3 separate regions of the Homo sapiens genome follow, and all the other regions are reported to be linked to region 3. Evidence: microRNA targets listed by miRTarBase, many of them from high-throughput screens and not tested one by one. Region 3 holds a microRNA gene; each other region holds the end of a gene's coding sequence.
The links. Region 3 holds the annotated microRNA hsa-miR-1224-3p (CCCCACCUCCUCUCUCCUCAG, at 1,180-1,200, opposite strand). A microRNA usually pairs through its seed, bases 2 to 8, with sites in the 3' UTR of a target mRNA and lowers its output. Matches are read on the target gene's strand: a 7mer-m8 pairs with bases 2 to 8, a 7mer-A1 pairs with bases 2 to 7 and ends in A, and an 8mer does both.

Region 1 (3,341 bases), not on the chromosome of region 3:
TGGCGCACATCTGTATTCCCAGCTCCTTGAGAGGCTAAGGCAGGAGAATTGCTTGAACCTGGGAGGTGGAGGTTGCAATGAGCCAAGATTGCGTCACTGTACTCTAGCCTGGATGACAGCGAGATTCTGTCTCAATAAAAAAGTGAATGAATGAGTGAATGAATGAATGCTGTTACTGGGGAAAGCCAGTGTGCTCGGCTCTTTGGGTGTCCTCAGCTAAGTCAGCTCAGCTTGCATTTCTGCCTCCCTTCTGCTGGTCTCCTGTGTCTTCCCATCACCTTTCTTTTTTTGCTTCCAATTGCAGTTTTTACTTCTGATTTTGTAAAGCTGCTTTTCCTAAGCCCGGTTGTGGTGGTATACTGTCGTCTTTACTGAAGGAAGTTTTAAGAAACAGCCTTAGACAAAGTTGCTCATAGCACTACCCCTAGTTCTGTGGGTGAGCCTCATGGAAATTCTTCTCAGGGGTCTTTTCCCACTGTTGGTTTTATGTCCCTGAGCCACTACTTGGATCTGGCCTTGGAGACATCGCTTTGCAGTAAGGGATTGAATTCCTTCCTCACAGTGGCTGCTAGAGAGCTTGAAGCTAAATTCCTGGTCTACCTCCAACAAATTCCAGACATCTTACCTGTTTTTACTACTAACCCTCCCCCAACCCCCACAGGCTTTGTTTTATTTTTCCTACTCTTATTTTCCCTTCACCAAGTTGTCTGCTTTTTCAGAGCTTATTTTAGTATATACATTTGAGTCAACTTCCCTAAATTCTTTTTGAAACAATTAGGGTAGCCCTACACAAAAACATCTTTGTTCAGCTATTTCTTTTCTTTTCTTTTCTTTTTTTTTTTTTTAGATGGAGTCGCGCTCTGTCTCCAGGCTGGAGTGCAGTGGCACAATCTTGGCTCACTGCAACCTCCACCTCCTAGATGCAAGCGATTCTCCTGCCTCAGCTTCCTAAGTAGCTGGGACTACAGGCGCATGCCACCATGCCCAGCTAATTTTTGTATTTTTAGTAGAAAGGGGTTTCACCATGTTGGCCAGGATGGTCTCACTCTCTTGACCTCGTGATCCACCCGCCTCGGCCTCCTAAAGTGCTGGGATTACAGGCGTGAGCCACCGCGTGCAGCTATTTCTTATTTTTTTGTCTTTGCTTTAAAAAACTGTGTTCTGTTGACAGTATTGTTCTCTTGCTACTAGTTCAATCCGTCTTGCAACCTATTGACTTTTTTAACCTATCTGCTACAGGGCAAATTAAATCCGAGATGTAATCCCAAATCAGGGCTAACACTGAGATAGTATAAACTACCCCCATCTCCTTAAAGCTCACATATCAGTAAATATATTTGCTTTCTTGGGGACAGAGGATTGAGTGGTTATTTGTTAGAAAGCGCACACACACCACTTTTACTTGGTTAGCCCCGAGCATTAGGGTAAGGTCTGCTGGCCTGTTTTTGCTTCTCTATCCTAAGTAGAATAGAGGGTCTGATAAGGCTGGATGCCTTCACTGCCCAGCCCCAGACGTGTAATCCCCTTTATGAAGAATTGTCCTGGTTGCTGCCCTTTTGTCCCTTACCTGTTCCCTTTTGGCTTCTGCTCCCCGCTTGGTTGCCCTGAACACCAAAACAAACCCCGGGCCTCTGTCACTGCTCACCCTCTGATTTAACTTTAACTTTTTATCCTGCTGTAAGTGGTAATGGTAAGAATTTAAAAAGAAGATACTCACATTTTGAAAGTGTTTATTGTAGAAGGAAAAGAAACGTTGAATGTTTAAAACAAAACCACAATATTTTATTTTTACAAAGTGAGATGCTTATTTACAGCATTTATTATTAACTATAACACCATCTACCTTCAGTTTTCAACCATTTCCTACAGACAAAATTTAAAAGGAAGCTCCTTGAGCTTGTTTCTTACAAAGTAAATAAAAATAGATATACCTGTATTAACTATGAATATTTTAAGGCAGTTTTGTGCCGGCATCCATGAGAGACTCTGTCCACCTCCTGCTGGTGCTTCATTCCTTTCAGTGCTGTACATGACCAAGGCGAGCAGGGGCAGTGCTCAGAGTCTGATCGCCAGATGCAGTGCCCTGGAGTTTCCTCCCCGCAAGTCCAGCCTGGGTCAGTTCCAGCCGAACAATTTTTGTGTTTTAAAAATAATGTGTAGACTCAAGATAATTTCACTGGATTTAAAAATAGAAATACCATTTCCCACCTGCCTCCTTCACTCCTTTCTCTAACACTCAAAGGCCTATCCTTTGAGAATCAAAATAATATGGTTCTTTTTAGCAAAGGGATTTGTGTTTTGCCCTCACATAGCCTAAGCCGTAGAGAAAATAGATAAAACGATCTCAAAATTATTTTCTTTCACAGACAAATCATGTGGAAAAGACAAGCTACTGCTATGTCAGGGATCTTGGGCAGAGAGACCCCACTCAGTCTACCACCTTGAGAAGGATGTGGCAGGACCCAGTGGGTTTAAATAGTTCATCCTGTTTACTGTAACATCCTTGGTACATATGATTTTTTTGTGCTCCTTGGAGACTTATTCTTTCTTTGGAGATTATAGGCTGTTTCTCAGTCCTACCCTTTCTAACACTCTCTTCCTGTCCTCATCTGCCCTCATCCAGTCTCCACGTGTCTCAGTTTCTGTATCCGTGCTCCACGGCAGCCTCCTTTTAAGGCTTGAAGTCTTCTGGGCGGATTTTCATCTCCACCCGTTTGAGGGAGTAGGTAGATCCATGCCAGCCATACCAGGTGATGCCATCCAGGTGCTTATTGTGCTCACCCAGGCGGTAGTACACTCCATTGAGGTTGGAGTCTGTGCAGCAGTTGTACCAGTAGCCACCTGGCATGAGAAACAGACCCAGTGCTAGTAAGTTGACTGTGATAGACCAGACATCAGGTAAGGAGTTAGAGCCAGGGTCAGAAAGAATACCAAAACCGGAATATCAACTGTACAGTTATAATTCACTCTTTCTCCTCAAGTGGGATTATGAGCTTGTACCTGAACTTCTCCTTTCCGGTCCCCCCAAATCTCACCTTTGCGGAGCTGTGCACACTTGTCCAAGCAGTTGTCATTGTCCTTGTCCTTGGTGCTGAAGGCTGTGTTGTTATGATACTGGAGGGCGTCGTTCCCCACATTGCCAGTGTAGTTCCCCAGGAAGAGGCGATAGCTGTTGAGTTCATTGCCCAAAACAAAGTGGCTATACTCAGCGTAGCGCAGGTTGCCCTCCCAGTCCTGTCAGGAGGAGCAGAGCCTTAAAGAAAGTGCAGCAGGCTCCATTTCATGCTGTCTCTATACCCCTTCTCTCCTGACAGTCCCATAGCCAAACATCTTTTTATAGG
Region 2 (3,341 bases), not on the chromosome of region 3:
GGGCCCTGGAAGTCCTGCTTAATGCCTATCCTTGTGTCCCATCCTGTGAGACCTGGGTGGAGGCGGTGCTCCCAGAGCTGTGGAAGGTATGTTTGCCTCAGGGCCGAGATGGGGAGGAGGGACGAGCCACAGGCCTATTCCTTCAGGACCAGCCTCATGGAGGGAGCAGCAGGAGGGCCCCTGGGTAGAGAGGATGGGTAGAGTGGCACCCCTGGGTTTCAGGGTACCCCCTCCCCCGGTACCCCAGGCTGACCCCTAACTCCACACACCTCTCCTGCCTCCCTCACTTGCATCAGCACAGACATTTATCTGGCATCTCTTAACTTGGTGGGCACTGTGCTAGGCTCTCTGGGGTGGGAGTGGTATAGACATAGTGGAGACCCTTCCCTGAAGTGGAGCCCCAGCCCGCATTATCACTGCAGGGCCTCTATGGTTCTGAATCTGAGTCCTTTGAGACACATGAAACACCCAGGTGGGTGCATGCTGCAAAATCCCAGGACCCCCACCGCTGGGTTGCCCCCAGATGGTAGGGCAAGGGTCATCTGACCTTCTTTCACTCCTGGCCTAGGAGCACGAAGCCTTCTACAGCTCGGCCCTGTGCATGGTGAACCAGCCAAGGCAGCTGCAGCACCTGGCCCGACTAGCTGTGCGCGCTCGGTTGGGAAGCCGCTGCCGGCAGGGTGCCACCCGGCTGCCACTGCCCCCGCTCCTCAGGGACTACCTGCTGCTGCGTGTGGAGGGGTGCATCCAGTGAACCCCATGTCAGGCTGTCCCATGGTGTGTTCTGCCCCTCCCACCTGTCCCCGCCTCCAACTGCGGAGGACCAGTTCCTGGCCCTCTTTTCTTTTCTTTTTGAGACCTAGTCTCACTCTGTTGCCCAGGCTGGAGTGCAGTGGCGCTATCTCGGCTCACTGCAACTTCTACCACCTAGGTTCAAGCGATTCTTGTGCCCCAAACTTCCGAGTAGCTGGGACTACAGGCATGAGTCACCACACCTGGCTGATTTTGTATTTTTAGTAGAGACAGGGTCTCACCATGTTGGCCAGGCTGGTCTCACACTGACCTCAGGTGATCCACCCGCCTTGGCCTCCCAAAGTGTTGGGATTACAGGCATGAGCCACTGCGCCTGGTTGCCTGCCCCTCTTTTCTGTACTCCACGTGCTGTCCTGGTCCACCTCACTCCTCCATGGGCTTCTTGAGACACCTGCTGACCTCTAGCCGGACCTGAGCTTCAGACCCTCTCTCCAGCAGGAAGGGCTGCAGACTCGGCCTGTTCCCAGACTCGGCCTTCACCTCCCTTCTCCTCCTGTGTTTAAGTGGATGGCCCCTCTATCCATCCAGGTCCCATGCCAAGAACCAGTGATTCTAGTGGCCCACCACCTCCCTCTCCTGCCACCCTTATACCTGTTCAGCCTCCTAAAGAGGGACAAACTCTGTCTCTGCGTGCACTGGCTTGCCTGCCCTGCCTTTGTCACTCCAAGGGAGATCTTGAGACCCATGCCCTGAATTGGTGCTGGAATGGTCTTTGGGAGTCAAACTCTGATCATGCCCTCCAGTGGCTCCTCTCACACTAAAATCAAAACTCTTTAAAACAAGCTGAGTGCAGTGGCTTACACCTGTAATCCCAGCACTTTGGGAGACTGAGGCGGGAGGATCACCTGAGGTCAGGAGTTTGAGACCAACCTGACCAACATGGTAAAACCCTGTCTCTACTAAAAATACAAAAAATTAGGCCAGGCGCAGTGGTTCATGCCTGTAATCCCAGCACTTTGGGAGGCCGAGGTGGGCGGATCACGAGGTCAGGAGTTCTAGACCAGCCTGGCCAACATGGTGAAACCCTGTCTCTACTAAAAATACAAAAATTAGCCGGGCATAGTGGCGGATGCCTGTAATCTCAGCTACTCAGGAGGTTGAAGCAGGAGAATCACTTGAACCTGGGAGGTGGAGGTTGCAATGAGCCAAGATCGCGCACCGCTGTACTCCAGCCTGGGCAACAGAGCGGGACTCCGTCTTAAAAAAAAAAAAAAAAAAAAGTCTTCCGTGAGGAGCGCAGAGGAGGTCGCGGCGCCGGAGGCCCCAGAAGGCTCGAAGGCACCGCGGGCTGGGGTCGGTGGCTTAGGGAGCCCGTCTGGCCATGGTGGCCGCGGGTGGTGGTTGGCGCGGCTGCGCTGCGGCCCGGGGCAGTGCGGACTGGGACAGTCGCGGCGCTGACGCCCGCGGGCCCCAGCTGCAGATATGAAGCGGAGCCGCTGCCGCGACCGACCGCAGCCGCCGCCGCCCGACCGCCGGGAGGATGGAGTTCAGCGGGCAGCGGAGCTGTCTCAGTCTTTGCCGCCGCGCCGGCGAGCGCCGCCCGGGAGGCAGCGGCTGGAGGAGCGGACGGGCCCCGCGGGGCCCGAGGGCAAGGAGCAGCCGCCTGCCTTGGCCTCCCAAAGTGCCGAGATTGCAGCCTCTGCCCGGCTGCCACCCCGTCTGGGAAGTGAGGAGCGTCTCTGCCTGGCCGCCCATCGTCTGGGATGTGAGGAGCCCCTCTGCCTGGCTGCCCAGTCTGGAAAGTGAGGAGCGTCTCCGCCCGGCCGCCATCCCATCTAGGAAGTGAGGAGCGCCTCTTCCCAGCCGCCATCACATCTAGGAAGTGAGGAGCGTCTCTGCCCGGCCGCCCATCGTCTGAGATGTGGGGAGCGCCTCTGCCCCGCCGCCCCATCTGGGATGTGAGGAGCGCCTCTGCCCGGCCGAGACCCCGTCTGGGAGGTGAGGAGCGTCTCTGCACGGCCGCCCCGTCTGAGAAGTGAGGAGACCCTCTGCCTGGCAACCACCCCGTCTGAGAAGTGAGGAGCCTCTCCGCCCGGCAGCCACCCCATCTGGGAAGTGAGGAGCGTCTCCGCCGGGCAGCCACCCCATCCGGGAGGGAGGTGGGGGGGGGGTCAGCCCCCCGCCCGGCCAGCCGCCCCATCCGGGAGGGAGGTGGGGGGTCAGCCCCCCCGCCCGGCCAGCCGTGCCATCCGGGAGGGAGGTGGGGGGGTCAGCCCCCCGCCTGGCCAGCCGTGCCGTCCGGGAGGGAGGTGGGGGGGTCAGCCCCCCGCCCGGCCAGCCGCCCCGTCCGGGAGGTGAGGGGCGCCTCTGCCCGGCCGCCCCTACTGGGAAGTGAGGAGCCCCTCAGCCCGGCCAGCCACCCCGTCCGCGAGGGAGATGGGGGGGTCAGCCCCCCCACCCGGCCAGCCGCCCCGTCCGGGAGGGAGGTAGGGGGGTCAGCCCCCCGCCTGGCCAGCCGCCCCGTCCGGGAGGGAGGTGTGGGGGGTCAGCCCTCCGCCCGGCCAGCCGCCCCGTCTGGGAGGTGAGGG
Region 3 (3,026 bases):
TGCTGGGGCTCATCGAGCTCTCCTGGAACACATACCCTTCCACATCCTGCAGCTCTGCTGCCCTGCACATATGCCATGCCGTCATCCTGCTGCAGCTCTGGCTGGGCCCGCAGCCTTTCCCCAAGAGCACCCAACACAGCAAGAAAGCCCACTGAAGTCCACCCCTTTCCCTCAGGACCTGAGTCTACCCTCAGGACCTGGGGTTGGTTGGACTCTGCCCTTCCAAATAAACCTTGCTAAGTCCAACTCTGTGCAACCTACATGGAGGTGGGGGCAGCCGATGCCTGGTCCAGGCTGTGAGGGACACGTATGGAGCAGATAAAGAATTCACTCAAGCAGTCCTAAGAGGCACTTTATTGCATAGGATTTGGGGACTGTGGCTCTCTACCCTTCCACTGTGTTGCAGGGAGCTCAGAGGATGGAGGGGAGTGTGAGTGGGGTGGGAGGAGAGGGAGAGAGCACAGGCAGGCACTTTTTGTGGGGGCAAGAGGGCTCTAGGGAGGGAGTAAGAAGCAGTGGGGGACAGGCTGGCACCAGCCTACACTTTCCCAGCACCAAGAGGCCAGCCCTGGGCGGCAGTGACTTGAGTGTGTTGGGTGGGGCGCCAGCCCAAGCAGCAGGGGGCAGCCTTCACACGTTCGCTGGGCTGTAGCACAGCAGGTGTAGCTGCAGGTTTTGGTCCCAGTGGCGCAGTAGCAGGAAGAGCCCTCGGGCTGCGGCCTTGAGGGCGGCCAGGTCAAGGCCGTCAGGCAAGTGCTGGGCCCGCAGCCAGCAATCAGCCTTGGCCGCTGTCAGTTCCCACTCGTCGAAGGCAGCGGCGCATCGGTGCTCCAGCCAGGCGAGTGCTACGGCAGTGGCCCAGGTCCGGCCCCGCAGGTCGGTGCCGCCCAGCCCTTCCGCCCCCTCGGAGGCCTCGGTGTCTGAGCCCCGCCCACTGTCCACCTGGCCTGGCCCCTCAGAGCCCGAGCTGGGGGACGGGCTGCAGGAGGCCGTGGCACTGTCACCCTGGCCAACACCAGGGCCCAGAAGTGCCCAGGGCAATGAGGCCGAGGTGGGGCTGAGGCTGGCGCGGTGCACGGCAAAGGGCGAGGCACGGCAGAGGCGCTCCTGCGAGATGCGCACAGCGGCGCAGAAGGGCGCGTCCAGGCGGAAGGAGCCTGGTGCCTCCTGCAGCCGCACCTGAGGAGAGAGGAGGTGGGGGGAGAAGCGAGCTGAAACAGCGCCCGGCCCCGGCGGCACCACCCTCCACCTCCCGAGTCCTCACCAAGGGCAGGTAGTCATGGTCGCTGCCTTCACTGTTGTTGGCCTGGCCCGGGTCAGGGCTACAGAGTTTGTGACGGCGGCCCATGCTGAGCCGACAGGGAGGACGGGGAGGTGGGCGGCGAGGACCTTCCGTGGGAGTGGCAGGGTCCCCCAAAGCACGCTTGGAGTTGCCATTTTGGTCCGAGTCCCAGGCGCCTGCTGGAGAGCCTCTCTGAAGTCCTGCAGTGGGGATCATCAGTGCCAGGGGGCGGTCTCTAAGCCCAAGTGCCCCTACCCTTTCCCTACCTTTGGGTGTTACCTTTAGAGTAGACAACAGTGGGCAGAGGAGCTGCATCTAGATGGCTGTGAGAGGCAGGAGGGGTTCCTGGGGGCTCAGCGGGCTCTGCAGGGGCACATGGGACAGGAGTCAGGTTTGTCCAGGAGAGTGGCCAGTGAGGTGAGAGCTGCACCTGAGAGGTCACCAGAAGAGGCCCCTACCTGAGCTGCACACCTGCAGGGCCCCAGGCAGGACCTCCCTAGTAGTAGCATCCACAGCTACAGGGCAAGTGAAGCAGGAGGGGGCAGAGCTGACCTTACTTGTCTGAAGGGCTCGAAGCCAGCACCTCCGGGCATGGCCTGTGGAACCAAGGAGCAGTCTGTGGAGCCCCCACCACCCACCCTCTACAGAGGGCTCATAGAAAAAATTGCAGTGTTCTCCCCAGCTTCTCCCTCTATCGACTTTAACAGAGTAGATTGCCTTGCTAGGCCCAGAACCAGCTCAGACTCCCCAACTTTGACAAGAAGTGATCAGGCTGAATCTTCAACCCATAGCAGAGCAAGAGCCCCCTGGCTGCCCAGAAATTCAGCACTCTGGACAACACCCAGAGGAAGCATTAGCTGGCACATTTTCCTCCACCTGCTTCTGCACTAATAAAACTTGGAAATGTTCTCTCTCTTCATGATCCAATGTGGTAGCCACTAGTCACATTTGACTATTGAGTACTTCAGCTGTGGTTAGTGCAACTGAGGAAATGAACTTTAAGTATTTTCCTAAATGACAAAGATTTGTTTTTACGTTGTGGGTGCTGTGAATCATGACAGGATCACGTTGCCCTCTGTGCTGGCTGCTAGGAAGCTTGTCAGTTCTGGATCTGATCCTTGCAAGAGTATATAACCTCACAGCATGCACCTTTAATATAACCTCATTCTCAGTTTCCTTTTATTTTTACTTTTTCCCATTGTCCCGCTTAATTTTTTATCTTGTCTGTGATGAGCCTCAAATCCTTTGTGATCAAAGCGAGGTATAGAGAGTGATCAAACACACAGACCTCTACCTTTGCTGTTTTTAGCCCATGCCTTTGGGTCCTGACTGGACCCATGAGCAACTCACCCCGGTCAGCTGTGGTCTCTGCCCCTCCTCGGAGGGCCAGCTGCTCATTGTCCCGGACCACAGAGGCTGCTGTCAGCCGATGGAGTGCTTGGTCCCAAGCAGCTTCTCTTACAGGAGGTGAGGGAGGCTGTGAGCCATCTCCAGGTCCCCACAGTGTCTCCAGCCCAACACCCACCTCCCAGCACATGGGCTGCTCCCCACACAGGCCCCGGATCACCACATGGCAGCGTGGAGCCTGGGGAGGCACTGCTGGAGGGGCCAACTCCCCACTAGGAGGCACAGCCGTGAATAAGAAGGGTGGTTCCATCAGCATGTCCCAGTCCATAGGGGCTGGGGAGAGCAGGTTTCCTGGGGAGGCAAGACAGCAGGGGCATGGGCAGAGTGGTCCTCTGGG

Region 1: miRTarBase lists ANGPTL7 as a target of hsa-miR-1224-3p. Seed matches in the 3' UTR shown: 8mer at 2,203-2,210.
Region 2: the mRNA of ASB16 is a reported target of hsa-miR-1224-3p. The part of its 3' UTR that is shown has no 7-base or 8-base seed match.

Annotation. Positions count from the first base shown.
Region 1 is chr1:11,194,354-11,197,694 of GRCh38, reverse strand. It overlaps ANGPTL7 (angiopoietin like 7), which reads right to left. Exons shown (of 5, transcript NM_021146.4): 4 at 3,036-3,234; 5 at 1,714-2,841. The coding sequence ends at 2,672. All of the region lies in intron 28 of MTOR (mechanistic target of rapamycin kinase), which reads left to right. Among named protein-coding and RNA genes, the nearest start is that of ANGPTL7, 6.7 kb to the right of the region's middle. RefSeq lists a silencer at 3,016-3,216.
Region 2 is chr17:44,177,637-44,180,977 of GRCh38, forward strand. It overlaps ASB16 (ankyrin repeat and SOCS box containing 16), which reads left to right. Exons shown (of 5, transcript NM_080863.5): 4 at 1-86; 5 at 569-1,448. The coding sequence ends at 754. The region is part of intron 2 of ASB16-AS1 (ASB16 antisense RNA 1); the gene reads right to left. Among named protein-coding and RNA genes, the nearest start is that of ASB16-AS1, 7.4 kb to the right of the region's middle.
Region 3 is chr3:184,239,643-184,242,668 of GRCh38, reverse strand. It overlaps MIR1224 (microRNA 1224), which reads right to left and starts at 1,264; the gene lies at 1,180-1,264. VWA5B2 (von Willebrand factor A domain containing 5B2) reads right to left here. Exons shown (of 20, transcript NM_001390846.1): 16 at 2,633-2,980; 17 at 1,741-1,878; 18 at 1,562-1,645; 19 at 1,265-1,482; 20 at 340-1,179. The coding sequence ends at 631. ALG3 (ALG3 alpha-1,3- mannosyltransferase) reads left to right here. Exons shown (of 9, transcript NM_005787.6): 9 at 1-368. The coding sequence ends at 155. RefSeq lists a silencer at 454-748.